Homo sapiens: one gene and its partner. The protein of the gene in region 2 purifies or fractionates together with the protein of the main gene of each other region. This does not show direct contact. Each region holds a gene or a part of one and is shown on either strand. Other genes may lie near its edges.

Region 1 (3,956 bases), on a different chromosome or scaffold from region 2:
TATATTCAAGTACCCTAAATTGAAGACTTATAGTTCTCATTATGTTTTCAGATTACTCTGACATTTATCAGCCAGTTCTAGTCTTAAATATTGATTTCTAAAACAAATTTTCTTTGTCTTTTTGGGAAGACAAAGGGACAGTTTCTGGAGCGGAGATGGTAACTAAGTTGTACTTTATTTGCAGACTTTGATGGTATTGGCAATAGCTGCCTGGAGCCATGATTCTGATTGTGTGGTTTCTGCTATATATTTATTATCCTTATTCCAGAGCAGTGGTTTTCAAAGTGTCCCCAGGCCAGCAGCATCAGCGTCCTGGAAACTTGTTAGAAATTGGCCACTCCATTTCTTGGGCCACCCAGGGTTACTGAATCTCAGACTCTGGGATGGGGCCCAGTGGCCTGGACTTACAAACCTTTAAAGTGATTCTTATGCTTGCAAAAGGTCAAGAACCACTGTTCTGGAGTATCAAGAATACTAATCAAAAATACAAATTAAGGCTTATGTTTTAGGAAACTAATAGTGCATGATTACTTTAAGTCTAAGCAAATGTTAAGTTGTAGTTAGGAATCTTCTCAGCATTTGTTATGGCAAATATACCTCAATCATGAAGGGCCCTGTAAAGTGACCATTCAGTACTTAAGTAAACATAGGCCATTCACATTTATATTGAAAAATGTGAAAGAGAAGGAGCCAGTGAGTGTTGACAAATTTAAAAAAATGCATTGATACCTTTAAAATTAGATTTATAATGTATAAAACTAGCAAAGAGCTGTGAAACAAATTCGGGATTAACTAGAATTAAATTCTGCCTATGCCTAAGTTGTTTGATTTAGGCCCAAGATGTTTAACCTTCAAGAATTGAAGTAAATTATCTCAGAGTTCCCTTTCAACTCTAGGTTTTGGTGATACTTTCTTTTTATATACCTTTCTGATGTCATTAAAAGCCTCTTTCTTACTATTCTTGCTGCCCCTTTTTAACTTAAATAAATATAGGCTGTCTATTATGCAGTTTAAAAAACATACAGCCAAGATGCCCCTTTGATTTTGTTCATATTTATAGTAGTTAATACAAAAGACTAAAATCGTAAGTACATAAAAACAGAAGTATTTAACCAAATTTGACATTTTGTTAACGGATTATTTTTATTTTAGGACATCTGAGTTCATCTTCTATATATCCTGCATGCAGTGCTCCTTATTTATTGGCAACTTCATGTTCAGATGAGAAAGTAAGATTCTGGAGATGCAGAGTAACAGATGGAGAATCTGCCACGTCAAAGAATGGAAAAATTGATCTTGCATACATTTGGGAAGAATGGCCATTACTTATTGAAGATGGACTTCAGAGCAATAGTAGTATAACTGTACCTGGTAGGCCTGTAGAAGTTAGCTGTGCACATACAAATCGTTTAGCAGTAGCTTATAAGCAGCCTGCATCTAATAGTAGATCTTCCCAGGACTTTGTGATGCATGTAAGTATTTTTGAATGTGAGTCAACAGGAGGTTCATGTTGGGTCCTTGAGCAGACAATTCATTTAGATGAGTTAAGCACAGTATTGGATTCTGGCATTAGTGTTGATAGCAATTTAGTGGCCTATAATAAACAAGACATGTATTTATCTAGTAAAGAGAATATCACATCAAACACAAAGCATTTAGTTCACTTAGATTGGATGTCTAGAGAAGACGGTTCTCATATCCTGACTGTAGGAATTGGATCAAAACTTTTTATGTATGGACCCCTGGCTGGCAAGGTACAAGACCAAACTGGTAAGGAAACCCTGGCATTTCCTCTCTGGGAGAGTACCAAAGTTGTGCCCCTTTCTAAATTTGTACTATTACGAAGTGTGGACCTAGTTTCTTCTGTAGATGGCTCCCCACCTTTTCCTGTTTCTTTATCGTGGGTCCGGGATGGCATCCTTGTGGTAGGAATGGACTGTGAAATGCATGTGTATTGCCAATGGCAACCATCTTCTAAACAAGAACCTGTTATAACAGATTCGTACAGTGGGAGCACTCCATCTATAACAAGTTTAATAAAACAGAGTAACTCCAGTTCTGGGTTACATCCTCCAAAGAAAACTCTGACTCGATCCATGACCAGTCTTGCACAGAAAATCTGTGGAAAGAAAACTGCATTCGATCCTTCAGTGGATATGGAAGATTCAGGTCTTTTTGAAGCAGCTCATGTACTTTCCCCGACTCTACCTCAGTATCATCCCTTGCAGCTTTTGGAACTCATGGATCTTGGTAAAGTTCGGAGAGCCAAGGCCATCTTGTCCCATCTTGTTAAGTGCATTGCTGGGGAAGTTGTGGCTCTGAATGAAGCTGAATCTAATCATGAACGCCGCCTTAGGTCTCTCACAATCAGTGCTAGTGGAAGCACTACCAGAGACCCCCAGGCATTCAACAAGGCTGAAAATACAGATTACACAGAAATAGATTCTGTTCCTCCACTTCCTTTATATGCCTTACTTGCAGCAGATGATGATAGCTGTTACTCATCTTTGGAGAAATCTAGTAATGAGAGTACGTTAAGTAAATCAAACCAATTATCTAAAGAAAGTTATGATGAGCTTTTTCAGACTCAACTTCTAATGACTGATACTCATATGTTAGAGACAGATGAAGAAAATACAAAGCCTAGAGTTATTGACCTTTCACAGTACAGTCCGACTTACTTTGGACCTGAGCATGCTCAGGTTCTTTCTGGCCACTTACTTCATTCTAGTTTACCAGGACTCAGCCGGATGGAGCAGATGTCTTTGATGGCCTTAGCAGATACAATTGCAACTACAAGCACTGATATTGGAGAAAGCCGAGACAGAAGCCAAGGTAAAACTAAACTCCGTACTGATAACATTTTTACTTACTTTCACAGAAAATAATTTTAAATAATTTTTATTAAAATGATGCCATTGGCTAGGCACAGGGGCTTATGCCTGTAAATTCAGCTCTTTGGGAGGCTGAGGCAGGAGGATCACTTGAACCTAGGAGTTTAAGACCAGTCTGGGCAACATAGTTGAGACCCCCATCTCTATGAAAACAAAAAAAAATTAGCCAGATATGGTGCCTCATGCCTATAGTCCTAGCTACTCAGGAGGCTGAGGTGGGATGATGCTTGAGCCCAGGAGGTTGAGCTGGCAGTGAACTGATTGTGCCACTGCACTACAGCCTGGACAATAGAGCAAGACCCTGTCTCTTAAAAAAAAAAATACCATGAAGGTTTTTTTTGGAAACATCTTTGCTACCTTCACAACAGTTTTAACTTTTTTTCCCCCCGAGACTATCATAAACAGCAAACTCTTAATATGCACTATTTATCCTGTAAATCATAGTACTATGAGCGAGTGCACAAAGACTCGTTATGCTGTTCATTTTTACTAATTTTCTGCTCAATAGTATAAAAGATCCAACTGAATCTTTCTGAGTTTAGCAAAATTTAACAGATTCTTATTAAACAATTATTTTAAGTACCTAAAAATGTGGTTTCTGGGTTTTTTCCCCTCATTTTGTAATAATCCACTATTAACAATTATAATTTGGTTTTTAAAACATTGAGTTTTTTTTAAATTAGCATTAATGTATGCTCCTACCTAGAAAAGCATAATGTAATTAGGTCTTTTCCTCACCCAGAGAGCATTTAAAAAAAAAATACTGCCAAGTTATGAACAGTTTGCCATAAAATCTCAAGTAAGTTCTGAAATGAACAAATTGAGCCTTGTAGACCATATATACGTCAGTATCCCTTTGAATGAAACTTGAAAGGAAAATATAGGGTAAATTTAATATAATAACAAAATTTAAATTTAAGAAAAATTAAGTTGGTTATGAATCTTGACACTTTTAGAGATATTACTAGTAGATACTATTTTTGATGTGAATATGTTATAGGTGTTTTATGTTTTTAGTTTTTGCTTCAAGGAAAAAATATCAGGCCCTCCCACCATAGAACT
Region 2 (4,412 bases):
AAACCATTCATTAGGATCTTATGTGTACTTTCATTTTCAGCTCAAGATTTTGTGCCTTCAATGAAGTACTATCTGAAAATACTAAATAGTGTGGTGGACTTCTACTAAAATTCGGAGGATTACTTCACAAATACTGGAATATTAAAGAACAGAATCTTAGCCTGAAAAGCAATATTAAATTTGACTTCAGTTTTGACAATTATAGTTAATAGTCTAATTACTGTATTCAAATACTGGTTAATCAAATACAGTAATTAACAGCTAAAAGCATTAGCCAATGGAAACTACACATATTAAGCATAACCAATCGTTTGACTTTACTTACTGAATTTTTTTTGCTTTTGAGACAGGGTCTCGCCATGTTGCCCAGGCTGGAGTGCAGTGGCACGATCACAGCTCACTGCAGCCTCCACCTCCCAGCTCAAAGGATCTTCCCACTTCAGCCTCCCAAGTAGCTGGGACTACAGGCGTGTACCACCACACCATGCTAATTTTTTTTTTTGTAGAGATGGGGTCTCACTATGTCGCCCAGACTAAAATTTTTAATTGATAAACTATATATTTAACAAGGAAAAATTGCTACAGCAGCTGTAATAACCAATATTCTACATTTCAACACACCACAAAATACACATTTTTAATTTAAAACGTATTAGGGAGCTGATATTTAAAGAAAATGATTTTTTTTTTGGTTTTGCTTATGTATATTTTTTATACAAGTCATTATTCCTTAGGTTAATTGGACATGACTATCTAGGTTGAAGAGCAGTAAGTGGAAGTTTGAATAAAGAACAGACAGGCTAAAGATGATCTTAATTGTACATAGATATACAAATTCTATATATTCAAAATATTCATGGAAAGAACAATTCCCTTCCCCTAGCCACCCGGCCACATAAACGTGAGACGTAATGTTCAGAATGATAAAGCCATGGAAACCTAGAACATCAATTAAAAAAAAAAAAAACAAAAAAAACTCTGCTTTCAAAGCCAAAGCTTCTTTCTTACTGCTCAATATAGAGTTGAAAACCCAGTACTAAGTGCTGTTGTACTTCAACATTAAGTGGATATTAAGCACGTTTTCAGAAATCACAATAAACTTTTATTTTTATAGAGAAAAAATGTTTTATTCTTTATTTCTAGTTTCTAATGATTTAAAATGCTACATGATTTTGTGGAGGTATTGCAATGCCTTGTTCAACAAAGGAACTATTATTACTCAGCATTATTACATAACTATGTGTGCTCTTCTAAAAATATATCTGTCACTATGTTTATAATTGCATGATAGTATGTAAAATAATTTACACCATCAATATGAACTTCATCAAAAAGTCAATTTCAATACGCAATTAGCATAAGATCACTTGTACTCTTAGAAAAACGAATGTTATTTCATAGGCATATTATATGTTTTTAAACAAGCAGATTTTGAAATGTCCTTATAACTGACCATCTCAAAATGTTTTACATTTAACACAGTGCTTTGAATTGTATCAAATTTTTTAAACCTATCACAAGACAATAAATACAGTTGTAGAAGTTTTTCAATGTAACTTTCAATTATAAATGACACCTCAAGAATTTTACCTCTTTATCTTTTCGATCCAAGAGGATATGTTGTACAGGAGGAATTAAATTTTCAACTGCCTTCCCCACATCACTGCGGAATGAATCACTAGCTGGAAGGCAACTGAATATGGGAAAAATACAATATTCAATTAAAATACTGACATTAAATACTTTATAATTCCATATGACAAGGTTTGTTGGTATTGGACAAAAAGGGGATTTTTAAATTATAGTTAATTTAATGCAGGCATTAAATTAAATAATGTTATAAAAATATTGTCCTTCAAATAAAAATCCACCTAATTTTTGCACTTAGAAGTTAAATTGGAATTAAAAATCTAACTTAAGAAGTTCTGAAGTGTTTTATCAAAGTTAAATATTTATAATACATACATTTTCTTAAAGTCAGGTTGTACCCTAAATTCTGAATCTTTTACTTTTGATGACTGTCCTAATTTATTACTTGCTGCATACCTGGCAGGTAGTTTGTAAATATAACTTTGCCCATTTTCTGTCCAAATGATGACTTTATCTGATGAGACAAAGTCCCCCCCGGTCCATGTCTGTCCATTTTCACTAGGACCTGAACACAACAAGGAATAGTCTCCGGCATCGAACACCTGCAAGGAAGAAAGAAATTCACAATCTACTCCATATTGTTGTAAAAAGTAAGATCCAGTGACATTTCAAGTTTAAAAAAAAAGCCTGGAAATGTATTTAGAAAACTCAGTTTGCTGCATCAGATAAAGAAAGTTTGTCAATAAGCCCTGGGAGAGGTCACCTTCAATAGGGAAGACACAACTAGGCCCCTAGTTATGGGTAACCTCCCTGTGGACAGGGAATAGGCTATGACAAGTGGAGCGAGGGTGCTCCCCACTACAGGAACAGTTATCCTCAGACTTTCTATCTAGTGAAAGTATTCCATTAAAGAATTGCAAATAATAGGGAATCAACCTCAAATATACAGGCTTGAGCCCTGTTTTATTTCTATGTCTAGTAACAGCATTTTTTTTTTTTTCTTGAGACAAAGTCTTGCTCTGCCACCCAGGCTGAAGTGCAGTGGCACAATCAGAGCTCACTGCAACCTCAAACTCCTGGGCTCAAGTGATTCTCCTACCTCAGCCTAGCTGGGACTGTAAGAGCATGCCACCATGCCCTGCTAACTTTTTTATTTCTTATTTCTTGTAGAGACAGGGTCTCACCATGTTGCCCAGGCTGGTCTCGAACTCCTGGGCTCAAGTGATCCTCCCACCCTGGCCTCCTAAAGTGCTGGGATTACAGGCATGAGCCACCTTGCCTGGCCCAGTAGCAACATTTCTAACAATAAACTCTGGCATGGGAATAACTCATTATTATAAGGGAGTTACTTTGCTCTACATTATTTCATCAATGTTCTAAAATACTATAGTTAACAGGCTCAATTTTACTATGTAATAATTTTCACATATAAAATTCAAATCCCTATAATTTCACCAGCAGTAAAGGCTACTAACCTTATAGGGCTTTACATTTGCAAGGCACTGCAAAGTTTACAAAGTACCTTTACAATTATTATCTCATATGACCCTGAGAATCACCGCAGATGTTACTATTCCAGTTTACAGACAAGAAATGGACACAAATAAAGATTTGATCAATTGCTCAAAGTCATGTGTCCAGTAAGTGATAGAGCCAAAGCTAAAAACTCTGCTCTTATAATTCCTAGCAGAATTATTCTATCACTTTTAATATTTGAAAAAAGTACATTAAATGTTGTTAGAAAATTTTCCCAGGAGGAATGAGTAATTCCTCATTCCTCAATAGATCAGAGGTTTTATTTTACTTTTCTTTAAAGAAAACAATGAAGTTGCTTGTATACAGCCTTGAAGTTAGAACACATCCTAGCTGCATTTACCATGATTTCTTATAATATTTATCAGTGTATAACATCAGCACTACAATTATAGCCAAGAAAACTCCAAGAAAGAGTAAGGAAGGGAAACTAGCCCTCCAGCCCTATTATCTGTTAAAGCAAATCATACAACTATAAAAGTTAGAACAATATAGTATTAATTCATGAATGGGCAGACAAATCCAGAAGTCTGAAAACAGATTCCAATAATGTAGGAATATAGTATATTATCAAGGGACAACAGACGAATGAATTATTCAACAAATGGCATCAGGAACTGGGGGGGTCCATCTGACATAAAAATAAAATTGGATCTATATCTCACAATTTATACAAAATAAATTCCAGATTAAAGATTCAAAGGTATGTAAGACAAAACCATATAGGCCAGGCACGGTGGCTCATGCCTATAATCCCAGCCCTTTGGGAGGCCAAGGCAAGCTGACCACTTGATGCCAGGAGTTCAAGACCAGCCTGAGCAACAAGGTGAAACCCATCTCTACTAAAAATACAAAAATTGGTCAGGCGTGGTGGTCCATGCCTGTGATCCCAGCTACTTGGGAGGCTGAGGCAGGAGAATCCCTTGAACCTGAGAGGCAGAGGTTACAGTGAGCCGAGATTGCACCATTGCACTCCAGCCTGGGCGACAGCAAGACTCTGTCTCAAAACAAACAGACAAAATTAAAAATAAAACCATATAAAAATTAGGGGAAAATGAAAGATTTGAATCTCAGCTTATGGTAAGCCCAATTGAAAACTTCTTCATGATAATAAGTATCTTAAAAAGCCATTCTGGTGGGTTGTAGTACTATCTCAGTATTGTCTTAATATGATGATTAGTGAAGTTGAGCACCTTTCTATACATTTACTGGCCATCTGGCTTTCATCTTTTGTGAAATATTTTTGTCCAATTTCCTGCTGAGTGTTCCGTAGTTTTCTTCCTGATTTG

Evidence for each region.
Region 1: the proteins of WDR7 (region 2) and DMXL1 purify together in Homo sapiens (affinity purification with mass spectrometry; one large-scale study listed by BioGRID and IntAct). This does not show direct contact.

The regions. Positions count from the first base shown.
Region 1 is NC_000005.10:119,147,587-119,151,542, forward strand, and holds part of DMXL1 (dmX-like protein 1), read left to right. Parts: intron 1-1,152; coding exon 1,153-2,835; intron 2,836-3,956.
Region 2 is NC_000018.10:56,688,996-56,693,407, reverse strand, and holds part of WDR7 (WD repeat-containing protein 7), read right to left. Parts: intron 2,193-4,412; coding exon 2,047-2,192; intron 1,694-2,046; coding exon 1,591-1,693; intron 1-1,590.